3 linked regions of the Homo sapiens genome follow. The protein of the gene in region 3 purifies or fractionates together with the protein of the main gene of each other region. This does not show direct contact. Each region holds a gene or a part of one and is shown on either strand. Other genes may lie near its edges. The genes, in order: NUP155, AKAP8 and ASH1L.

Evidence for each region.
Region 1: the proteins of ASH1L (region 3) and NUP155 purify together in Homo sapiens (affinity purification with mass spectrometry, with the first as the bait; one large-scale study listed by BioGRID). This does not show direct contact.
Region 2: the proteins of ASH1L (region 3) and AKAP8 purify together in Homo sapiens (affinity purification with western blotting, with the first as the bait; one study listed by BioGRID). This does not show direct contact.

The regions. Positions count from the first base shown.
Region 1 is NC_000005.10:37,364,452-37,368,171, forward strand, and holds part of NUP155 (nuclear pore complex protein Nup155), read right to left. Parts: intron 1-3,720.
Region 2 is NC_000019.10:15,366,140-15,369,859, reverse strand, and holds part of AKAP8 (A-kinase anchor protein 8), read left to right. Parts: intron 1-1,537; coding exon 1,538-1,625; intron 1,626-3,720. UniProt on the Homo sapiens protein: Anchoring protein that mediates the subcellular compartmentation of cAMP-dependent protein kinase (PKA type II).
Region 3 is NC_000001.11:155,560,004-155,564,053, reverse strand, and holds the start of ASH1L (histone-lysine N-methyltransferase ASH1L), read left to right. Parts: upstream 1-1,250; 5' UTR 1,251-1,901; exon of another isoform or gene 1,902-2,012; intron 2,013-4,050. UniProt on the Homo sapiens protein: Histone methyltransferase specifically trimethylating 'Lys-36' of histone H3 forming H3K36me3. Also monomethylates 'Lys-9' of histone H3 (H3K9me1) in vitro. The physiological significance of the H3K9me1 activity is unclear.

The sequences.
Region 1 (3,720 bases), on a different chromosome or scaffold from region 3:
GTGCCACAAAAAAATTGTTGTGTGTTGGTTCCAAAGGTACAGAGAGAATATTCTAGTTTTGACCCAACACAAAGTAGTCCTGAAATATTCCCTTGTGAAGGTAGGAACAGTTACTGGTTTCAGGCCTAAAGGGAAAGTCATATCTCAAAAAACTTGCTCTGTAACAAAGGAAATGTTTATTTTATTTTATTTTTTTTTTTTTTGAGATAGAGTCTCGCACTGTCGCCCAGGCTGGAGTGCAGTGGCACAATCTCGGCTCACTGCAAGCTCCACCTCCCGGGTTCACGCCATTCTCCTGCCTCAGTCTCCCAAGTAGCTGAGACTACAGGCGTCCGCCACCACACCCGGCTAATTTTTTGTATTTTTAGTAGAAACGGGGTTTCACCGTGTTAGCCAGGCTGGTCTTGATCTCCTGACCTCATGATCCGCCCGCCTCGGCCTCCCAAAAGGCTAGGATTACAGGTGTGAGCCACCGTGCCCAGCTGGAAATGTTTAAATTTGATAATTTAGTGTTATTTTAAAATAAAAGTGGCTGGGCGCAGTGGCTCAAGCCTGTAATCCTAGCACTTTGGGAGGCCGAGGTAGGAGGATCATGAGGTCAGGAGTTTGAGACTAGCCTGGCCAACATGGTGAAACTCCATCTCTACTAAAGACACAAAAAATTAGCCTGCCTGGTGGCGTGCGCCTATAATCCCAGCTACTGCGGAGGCTGAGGCAGAACTGCTTGAACCCGGGAGGCGGAAGTTGCAGTGAGCTGAGATTGTGTCATTGCATTCCAGCCTGAGCGACAGGGCAAGACTCTGTCTCAAAAATAAATAAATAAATAAATAAACAAAATGAAAGCATGTAATTGTATTGTTTGTAACACAAAGGATAAATGCTTGAGAGGATAGATACCCCATTTTCCCTGATGTGATCATTTCACATTGCATGCCTGTATCAAAACATCTCATGCACCACATAAATATATACACCGTTGGGCGCGGTAGCTCACGCCTGTAATCCCAGCACTTTGGGAGGCAGAGGCAAGCCGATCACAAGGTCAGGAGTTCAAGACCAGCCTGGCCAAAATGGTGAAACCCTGTCTCCACTAAAAATACAAAAAAATTAGCCAGGCACAGTAGCAAGCACCTATAATCCCAGCTACTTGGGAGGCTGAGGCAGGAGAACTGCTTGAACCTGGGAGGCGGAGGCAGCAGTGAGCCAAGATCGTGCCACTGCACTCCAGCCAGGGTGACAGAGCAAGACTCTGTCTCGGGGAGAAAAAAAAAAAAAAAAAAAAAAAAAATATATATATATATACACACACACACACACACACACACACACACACACACACACAGACGCCTACTATGTACACACAAAATTAAAAATAAAAAAATTTAAAAATAATAATTTAGTGTTTTTCTATCATTTTGCTAATCTGAAATGGGAAAATATAAAACTGCTTTGGGGCTCAAAGGTAAAATGACTATAAGCAAACAAAATAATGACTGGGGGAAAATACTGCCTTTACCAGCTAAACATTTATAGATTAAAACAACCCATGACTTTTCCCTTTAGATTTATCCCCAAGACCACTAAGACAAATACAAATAATACCCCACAAGCAGTATCTTATTGGGGGGATAAAAACAAAGACTGCTCTATAAAGTGTTCTCATGGGCAACCTTTCTCTTGCTCTAAGACTCCATCACTAAGGACAGGAGTGGGCTGGTCTACTCAGCCTACCCTTGCTCCCGGACAAGGCGTTATTTAGACCTGACTGATGACCTACTTATCTCAGGCACTTTCTCAGGTTCTATAGAGTACAAAGATGTTAAGGAAAACTGACATATAAAACAATCTTGAAGTGTATTATGGAAATTTTTAAAATATATATAAGAAAAATACAATAAATACCCATGTACTGATTATCCAACTTAATAACCAGTAATATCCCCAATCATGTTTCATTTTTATCATTGTTCACTCCTTCCCCAATTATCTTTTTATTTTTATTTTTTGAGACGGAGTCTCGCTCTGACGCCAAGCTAGAGTGCATTGGCGCGATCTCAGCTCACTGCAACCTCCAATTCCCTGGTTCAAGGGATTCTCCTGCCTCAGACTCCCGGGTAGCTGGGATTACAGGCATGAGCCACCACGCCCAGCTAATTTTTGTAGTTTTAATAGAGACAAGGTTTCACCATGTTGGCCAGGATAGTCTCAATCTTTTTTTTTTTTTTTTTGAGACGGAGTCTCACAGGCTGGAGTGCAGTGGCCTGATCTCAGCTCACTGCAAGCTCCACCACCTGGGTTCAGGCCATTCTTCTGTCTCAGCCTCCCAAGTAGCTGGGACTACAGGCGCCTGTTGCCACGCCAGGCTAATTTTTTTATTTTTAGTAGAGACGGGGTGTCACCGTGTTAGCCAGGATGGTCTCGATCTCCCGACCTCGTGATCTGCCCGCTTCGGCCTCCCAAAGTGCTGGGATTACAGGCGTGAGCCACCGTGCCCGGCCGGTCTCAATCTCTTGACCTCGTAATCCGCCTGCCTTGGCCTCCCAAAGTGCTGGGATTACAGATGTGAGCCACTGCACCCGGCCGAACTCTTTTTCTCTTTTTTTTTTTTTCCTGAGACGGGGTTTCACTCTGTCGCCTTGGCTGGAATGCAGTGGTGCAATCACAGCTCAGGGCAACCTCAGCCTCTTGGGCTCAAGCAATCTTCCACCACAGCCTCGTGAGTAGCTAGGACTACAGTGTCATGACACCATGCCTAGCTAATTTTTTTTTTGTTTTTGGGGTTTTTTTTTGGGATGGGCTCTCGCTCTGTCGCCCAGGCTGTAGTGCAATGGCGGCTCACTGCAACCTCTGCCTCCCAGGTTCAAGAGATTCTCCTGCCTCAGCCTCCCGAGATGCCAGGACTACAGGAGTGTGCCACCACACCCGGCTAATTTTTGTATTTTTAGTAGAGACAGGATTTCGCCATGATGGCCAGGCTAGTCTCAAACTCCTGACCTCAAGTGATCCACTCACCTTTGCCTCCCAAATTGCTGAGATTACAGGAGTAAACCACCGAGCCCAGCCAAACAGCATTTTTCTTTTTCCTTTTTTTTTTTTTTTGAGACGGAGTCTCACTCTGTCGCCCAGGCTGGAATGCAGTGGCGCGATCTCGGCTCACTGCAAGCTCCGCCTCCCGGGTTCACACCATTCTCCTGTCTCAGCCTCCGGAGTAGCTGGGACTATAGGCGCCCGCCACCACGCCCGGCTAATTATTTTGTATTTTTAGTAGAGATGGGGGTTTCACCATGTTAGCCAGGATGGTCTCATCTCCTGACCTCGTGATCCGCCCACCTGGGCCTCCCATTTCTTTTGAGAAAGAGTCTCCCTCTATTGCCCTGGCTGGAGTACAGTGGCGCGATCTCGGCTCACTGCAACTTCCGCCTCCCTGGTTCAAGCGATTGTCCTGCCTCAGCCTCCTGAATAACTGGGATTACAGCCATGAGCCACCACACCCAGCTAATTTTTGTATTTTTAGTAGAGACGGGGTTTTACCACGTTGGTCAGGCTGGTCTTGAACTCCTAACCTCGTGATCTGCCACCTCAGCCTCCCAAAGTGCTGGGATTATGGGCGTGAGCCACCGCACCCAGCCACTTTTTGTAGAGACAGGGTTTTGCCATGTTGCTCACTCAGGCTGGTCTCAAACTCAAGCTCAAGTGATCCACCCCACTTCCAGGTCCCAA
Region 2 (3,720 bases), on a different chromosome or scaffold from region 3:
GGAAGGAGAAACATGAGAGAAGAGGCCCCCAGCCCATCTTCTGTGCCCTCCTCGGCCAGTGCATTTCCCTGAAGTGTTTTCTCTGGGGCTTCCTTTTGTCCAGTTCCTTCAGTCGCCTGCCCTGGGCTGTGCTGTGGGCCTCTGTGGTGGGGATACTGGCAGCTGCACTGCACATTGCTTCGTGCCTGCGAGTGTGTGACAGCAGACACCTGCGGGGTCGGGAGCACCCAGGCCCACTGGGTCTTTGAGAGGCGGGCGCCCTTCAGCAGGTCTCTTCATGTCCAATGCAGGAGACCAGAGGGTCTGCAGCAACAGCAGAGCAGGCTTAAATCCCTCATGGCAGAGCGGCCTGAGGTGCCGCGGCCTGGAGCTCACCCTGAAGCCACTCGTTTCTTTACCTGTCCTGTGGGTCTTTCCGTAGCTGGTTACCCCAAGGATCATAGGCTGGCTCCTCAGTGGCCCTGCTCCCATCCATTCTGAAGGCCCTTGGCTTAGATGTTCCTCCTGTTCAGGCTTTGCCAGCCCTCTGCGGTCCTCCCCCCCGCGACCCGCAGCAGTCCTGTCCATAGCACGGGGCGCCCCGAGCGCTTAGCGGCACAATGCTAAAGCAAAGGTGACATGTCTGTTGCGCGCAGGTCCTGCTACCTACCCGGGATGACTTTGCTATTAAACAGCAGTCATAGTTTCAGGCAGTGACCTCTTGCCAAAAATCCCACACGCCCTTTTGAGAGGCTTCTGAGCAGCGCACGCCGGTCGCCATCTTCGTGGGACAGTCTCGGGACTGGCATCAGGGGTAGGGGTTACAGTTCAGATGCTTCTCCAACCTTTTTTCAGCGTCCGTCCCTGGCCTCATGCTGGGATGATGGCCGCGTGGCTCTCCGAGGAGCTCCTCTGCTGGCCCCGGGGGACGGACGGGAGGACCAATTGGTCTCTTCCCAAATTTTTTTCTAGGATTGCTTCCCACGCAGCCCTGGGAAAGCCCTAGATTGACGGTTTTTGTGAGTGGAAGATAGAGGTCGGGCCAGCAAGGACTGTCAGACCTGCTGAGGCCCTAGTTCAGACGGGGCCGCCAGGACGCTCGTCACAGTCCACCTAGAGGTGGGATAGAGGGCGGCGGAGCAGCTGCTTCACTTCCTGAGGCCTTCAGCTGCCGCCTCTTCATCCGGGGAGAATTGGCTTCTCCTGTGATATTGGGAGAAGACCCCATCGCAGGGCATGAGATTGGACAAGCAGAATGGGGAGGACAGAGGGAGCAGGGGGCTGTGGTGCACATGGGGTGGGCAGGCTGTGTCCCTAGCCCATCCTGGCCGCCTCAGGCCATGTGGGGAGTTTGGTGACTACTCCGGGCTCTCACTCCAGGCCCGTGTCCACCAGGAGTCTCTGACAGTGCCTTGGGGCATCCTGGACCCTGCCGCGTGGTGCAGGCAGTGGCAGGGCACAGGGTGCGGTGGCCAAGCTGCAGCCCCCCGACCAGGCCCTGGAGCTCAGCTCCTTTGCAGGCCACTCAGAGCGTCTCGAAGGGACTTGTCTGTTACAGGAGAGAAGGAGGACGAGGACGAGGATGTGAAGAAGAGAAGGGAAAAGCAAAGGAGAAGAGACAGGACGCGGGACCGTGCAGCCGACAGGTGAGGCGCGGGCACACGACCCCACAGGAGGAGGTGGACTCGTGCGGTGGAGGCGCTGCCGAGCTCACCTGTCCTCGCTCCACAATGCTGGGGGCCTGGTGGCCTGACTCCTCTGGCCAAACCAGTGGGAGGCAAAACAGTAAACAATTGGGAGTGCAGAAAAGACCATCACTCGTGCTCCCAGCACACGAGCTACCTGTCTTCTAGGATGGCTGGGACGTTGCTTTGGTGGTTAGGTTTCTGTTCTTGCTTTAGAGGATTGGTGTTTGACTCCTGTGTCTCTATTCCTCTGGAATCCCAGCCTTGCTGGTGGGTCTGTGTGGTCCATAACTGCTCAGCAGCGGGCTCTGTTACTCTCCTGCAGGCCTGAGGGGCATCCCTGCCCCCTAGCCTGGTGTCTGGCATCTCAGACACTGTCCTGTGTTCACCTTATCCAAATCCAGACCACCCCTGGAGTTTGACACAGCTAGGAGACAGGTAGAGAGATGATCCTACCATCAAGATTTTGTCCCACAATAGAAAAGGATTGCAAAAATGTTGAGCCCAAAGGATGTCATTGTGAGCACACCATGTGCCTGCCTCTCCCTGCCAGGAGTTAAGTGGCTTCTGACTAGAAACTGAAATCACCAGTGATCATGTGATGCTGGGGAATCCTTGACCTTAAGGTTCACATGGGACAGTGATTTTCTTTTTGTTTGTTTGTTTCTGAGATGGAGTCTTGCTCTGTCGCCCAGGCTGGAGTGCAATAGCATAATCTCGGCTCACTATAACCTCTGCCTCCTAGGTTCAAGCGGTTCTCCTGCCTCAGCCTCCCGAGTAGCTGGGATTACAGGCGCCTGACACCACGCCTGGCTAATTTTTGTATTTTTAGTAGAGGTCGGGATTCACCGTGTTGGCAAGGCTGGTCTTAAACTCCTGATCTTGTGATCTGCCCGCCTTGGCCTCCCAAAGTGCTGGTATTACAAGCGTGAGCCACTGCGCCCAGTCTGGGCAGTGATTGTCGTGTTCAAAGAAATGCTTAGTAAAAGGGGCCAGATGCCGTGGCTCACACATGTAATTCCAGCACTTTGGAAGGCTGAGCTGGCGGATCGCTTGAGGCCGGGAGTTCAAGACCAGCCTGGTCAATATGGTGAAACCCATCTCTACTAAAATTACAAAAATTAGCCAGGCATGGTGGCAGGTGCCTGTAATCTCAGCTACTCGGGAGGCTGAGGCAGGAGAATCACTTAAACTGGGGAGGTGGACTTTGTAGTGAGCCAAGGTTGCACCACTGCACTCCAGCCTGGGCGACAGAGCAAGACTCTGTCTCAAAAAGAAAAAGAAACGGGCTGGGGGCAGTGGCTCACGCCTGTAATCCCACCACTTTGGGAGGCCAAGGCAGGCGGATCACCTGAGGTTGGGAGTTCGAGACCAGCCTGACCAACATGGAGAAACCCAGTCTCTACTAAAAATACAAAATTCGTCCGGCATGGTGGCGCATGCCTGTATTCCCCGCTGCTCGGGAGGCTGAGGCAGGAGAATTGCTTGAACCCAGGAGGTGGAGGTTGCAGTGAGCCAAGATCACACCACTGCATTCCAGCCTGGGCAACAAGAGCGAAACTCTATCTCAAATAAAAACTCCATCTCAGTGAGCCGAGATTGTGCTACTGCACTCCAGCGTGGGCGACGGAGCAAGACTCCATCTCAGGAACAAAAAAAAAAAAAGAAAATCACTGTTCCATGTGAACCTTAAATCAAGGATTCAAAAAAAAAAGAGAGAAATGCTTAGCAAAACGAAGCCAGGAACCAAACGCAGAACTGTTTCTTCTTAAGTGGTACAGGAACATTGAAACCCTTGTTATTTTAAACAGATAAATGGATAGAGTAGATGACTTTTCATGTCACATGGAAACTGAGATGACATTTTCTTTTTAATTATTTTTAAACTTAAATAATCTAATAAAGAGATAGGGGTCTTTCTCTGTTGCTTGGGCTGTTGAACTAGCCTCAAGAGATCTTCCTGCGTTGGCCTCCCAGAGTACTGGGAGAAGGGTATAGAGATGACATTTTTTTTTTACTACTTTTTGCTTTTTTTTTTTTTCTTTTTGCTTTTTTT
Region 3 (4,050 bases):
AATTATTTGTGGACTTTAATCGTCCGTATTTCTGCTGCATTCAATTATCAAATATCAGTCAAGTGTTTTGAGAAACAAATATTCAGTAGCCACAGAAACCTAACAGGCCTATGTTTGCTTTGTTTTATTAACTCCTTGGAGGGACAGAACACTACCAATTACACCCACAAACGTTATCGACATCAACAGAACTGTAAATGACAACACGGCAATATTCTGCACTTTCCCTATGCCTAGGAGCTAATTCCACTTTACATATATTATCTTATTATTTCACACATTAACCCTGGAGGCATGTTTGGAGTTGCCTAATTTTTATGTACACTTTTTGATAAGGAACTAACAAAAATAACTTGCTGAAGGAAGAAAAGGGAGACTAAGTCCAGAACTGAATGAAAAGCACATGGTTTCTTCATCCTCCATCACCAGGCTGTCTAACGAGGCTGAAGAAGTACCATCCATGAGTAAGTGCGTCAAGGGCAAACAAACATCATCGCATATGGACAGTGGTGTGAAATTCGAGAAATCCGAGGAGGGTTAACAACAACAAAAAGCACACCACCACGCCGATCTTCCTCGGGTCCCAGGTTGGCAACTCAACGCCCGGGAGGAATCCCCCCGGAGGCGCGCCGGTCCTACTGGCCTCACTCCCTACCTCCTGGAGGTCCGGAGTCCCGCTCCTTTCCCTCAGCGGTACAATACCCGTGTCGGTCCATTCCCTCACCGTGAGTCGAGGACTAGTTCTCCTGACTAGGCGACCGGCACACACCGCCTGCGACCAGCTCCACAGCAGCGGTCCTGCTACTGCGAAGTAGGCTCAGGTCAACCGGCAGGAAACGACTCAACGCGCAGCCGCCGCGGCCTCCAACCACCGGTGGGCAGAGGGGCGCTAGGCAGTCCTCGATCCGCTCGCCGCGATCCGGCGGAGGAGGAGGAGCAGAGGGAGGCGAGCCGCAGCGCTGCGGCGAGGAGCCCAGGGAGGTAGGTTGTCGTGGGGCTCGGTCCGCCATTCTGGCAATTCCAGTCAAACGGCAAGCCCCGACCCGCTCGGCCCGTCCCTTCCTCTCCTGCCCCTGCAGCCGACAGGAATGGAACAGTCCCGCGGGGGGGATTGTGGGAGGCGCACGCGCGAGGGGTGGAGGGTGGTAGGGGGGGCTGGCGGCGGCGGCGGCGGCCGTGGCGGCGGTTGGTGGCCGTGGGGGCGGGGAAGGGGGGGGAGGAGAGAAGAGGAGGTGGAGGAGGAGGAGGAGGAGGCTTGGGCTTGCGCCGTTGAAGGTACGCGTGAGGGCCTGCGCCGGCGCCGGCTTGACAGGGCCTGAGGGGTAGTGAGGGACTGGACGAGGGGGTTCCTGTGGGTGAGCGCGTACGGGCTGGCTGGCGCGCGGGGCGGCCGAAGGTGGTGGTTGGTGGGAGCAGCCAGCGACGAGCCCGTAGACACTCGTACGCGTGCGGGCGGGCGTGCGCGCTACGCGGACGGAGTCGGGCGGAGCGGGGGACGGTGGGAAAGAACGCAAGGAGGAAGGAGTGGAAGGTTGAGGGGGGCGCTAGGCGCCCTTCGCTCCCTCCCTCTGGAGGAGCTGCCGCCGCCACCGCCGCCACTCTGCTGCTGCCGCCGCCGCCGCCGCCGCTCCCGCCGCCATTTTGGGTTCGCTTTGCGGAGGGGAGACGATCCCAGTCTCGGTTGCGGGACCCGCCTCCCCTCAGTTTGCCCCCTTTAGCCTTCCACCTTTCCCTTCTCCTCTCTCGCATTTCCGCCAGTCAGCTTACCCGCTGGCCGCCTCCTGACAAGCGGGAGGGATCCGCCGTGGACCCAGGGAAGCGGAGGAGCCTGGCGGCCACCCCCTCTTCCCCACTTCCCTGCACTCTCATCGCTCTCGGCCTCGGCCTCGGCCTCCGACACGGTGAGTAGAACGATTTGGGCCGGCATTCGGGCCTAAGCACTCTCTCAGCGATTGAATCCTGGGCTTTCTGGGAGCCACTGTCATCTCCCGGACCTGGATCTCTGAGAGAGCAGTGGTGAAGATGGGGGAGGGGAGAGCAGGGAGGGGGATCCTGAGCCTACCGGGAAGTCCCTCCAGGCGGGGTGAAGGGGTGTCCCTGACAGGCAGACTCCCGGAGGGGGCTGGGAAGTAAGCGAGTGGAGGCGGAGTCGGCTGTGCCCCTGACAGGTTAGTTTGTGTTTGTAGGCATGATCGGAGCCTCCCCCATAGTCCAGTTTGTGTGTGTTTAATTAAGGGATAAGAGTGGTCGAGGACACGATCTTGAGAGGGGATTTTACCTGTGTGACAAGGTCTGTGGTGTCCCTGCCGCGTTGAACGGTATGTGGGAACGACAGGATGATCTCAGTGTTGTAAGTTTAATAAATGTCACTGGTTAGTTTGTACATGGAAAGAGATGTTTTTGGTCTAGCAGACAGATGGTCTGTTGGTGTGTAGCGGCTGTGTTGGTGTGTGTATGTGAGGATGGCAAGTGTTTCCGTAAGAGTTTGCCTTTATTTGTGTAAGTGTAATGGAGTTCCCCTTATAAGTTAGCTTATTTCTTGAATAAATGTTGGGAGGTTCCTTGCAGGTTGATATGTGTGTGTATTTTAGGGATTGGGAGCCCCTAGTTACTTGTTGGGAAAGAGCGGCAATGGTAGTGTTCTGTACAGCATGTGTCTGTGAGGTCAGGGAGGGGAGAAACTTGGCATAGCCAGTTGTGGTCTTAAGAATAGTTTGTGCCTTTGGTTAGAGTGAGTTGTGTAAATGTGAAGGGCCAAAATATCTTTAACAGAATCATTACTACAAAGTTGTAAAGAATGGGTGGCCTTATTTGTTGTCGCGGGTTTATAGTAATAGTTTACAATACAATAAGAAAGCTCTTTCAGTTTTTTTGTGATACTGAATCTCTGTGAAAATGGTAGGATGCTTTCTTCCATTTTACAAAATAGGAAATTTAGGCATAAGGAGAGAACTTCTCCAAGGCCGCATGTTAAATTGGTGACAAAGTTGGAACTGTAACTCCCATATTTTCACTACTACTGCAGCAGTATATTCAGCATACCATGGTGCCTCAGGAAGTCTTTGTCGGCAAATCTGAGTATGCTGGAAAGATAGGAGCACATAAGACTGGTTGGCTTGTATTTGGGGGAGACCGATTGTGTCAGATATGTATGTGGAACGTAGCTGTCCTTGCCGAGTCTGACCTGTATGAAATGCATATCCATGACTATATTATTTTGGATTTATGGAGGAAGCAGAGCATTTCTGACACTTGAGGTTGTATGTGTGAGGGAGAGAAGGCTTTCACAGCTTAACTTGTACCAGAGCAGCTGCATGGGTGCTGACAGCTTAACTTGAAATCTGTGGGAGGAAGGATCCTTTTTCATTCATTCAACAAATATTTGTTGACTGCCTGTTCAATAAATGGTCCATGCCTTGGCGTGAGGATAATCAAGGTGTCTCTGTAAATAGCCTGGGTACAACGTGAGGGGAGTTGTTTTGACAGTGGTGGGTATTAAGTTGAGGGAGGCGGTGTGGAATTAAAACCAGAGAACTGTTTTTGGGTTCTGGTAATTGTTAATACATGTGCCTGTGGATGTTGGAACTTCTTGGCTGGGCTGAAGGAATCCTTTGAAAGACTCATTTCATATAGTAAGAATCCCCTCTATGAATATGAAGAAAGAATGCATAAACTAAGCCACTTAACCGTATTCTTCTGAAAAATGGGATGTTTCTTGATAGGCTAGATGAGTGGTTCTTAAAATTTTTTGGGGTCACTTATCCTTTTGAGAATCTGATGAAAGACACTGGGCCCTCAAGTTAGAAGATGAGCATAAGCACAATCACATGATTTATATATATGATTTTAGGAACTTAAAATGTAATAAAATAGAGCCAATTTATATTTAGGTCTCATTTGAAAACCTTTCATTTTCATTGTTCGGGTGTGTGGATGTTAGTATGAGTTTAAGATGAAAGAGTCTATGGTATTTGAACATGTTGACAGGAGAACTTTAGGGTCCATGTTTTTTATTCTTTTTATCATCTGCAAACTTATTTCTGCAGTATT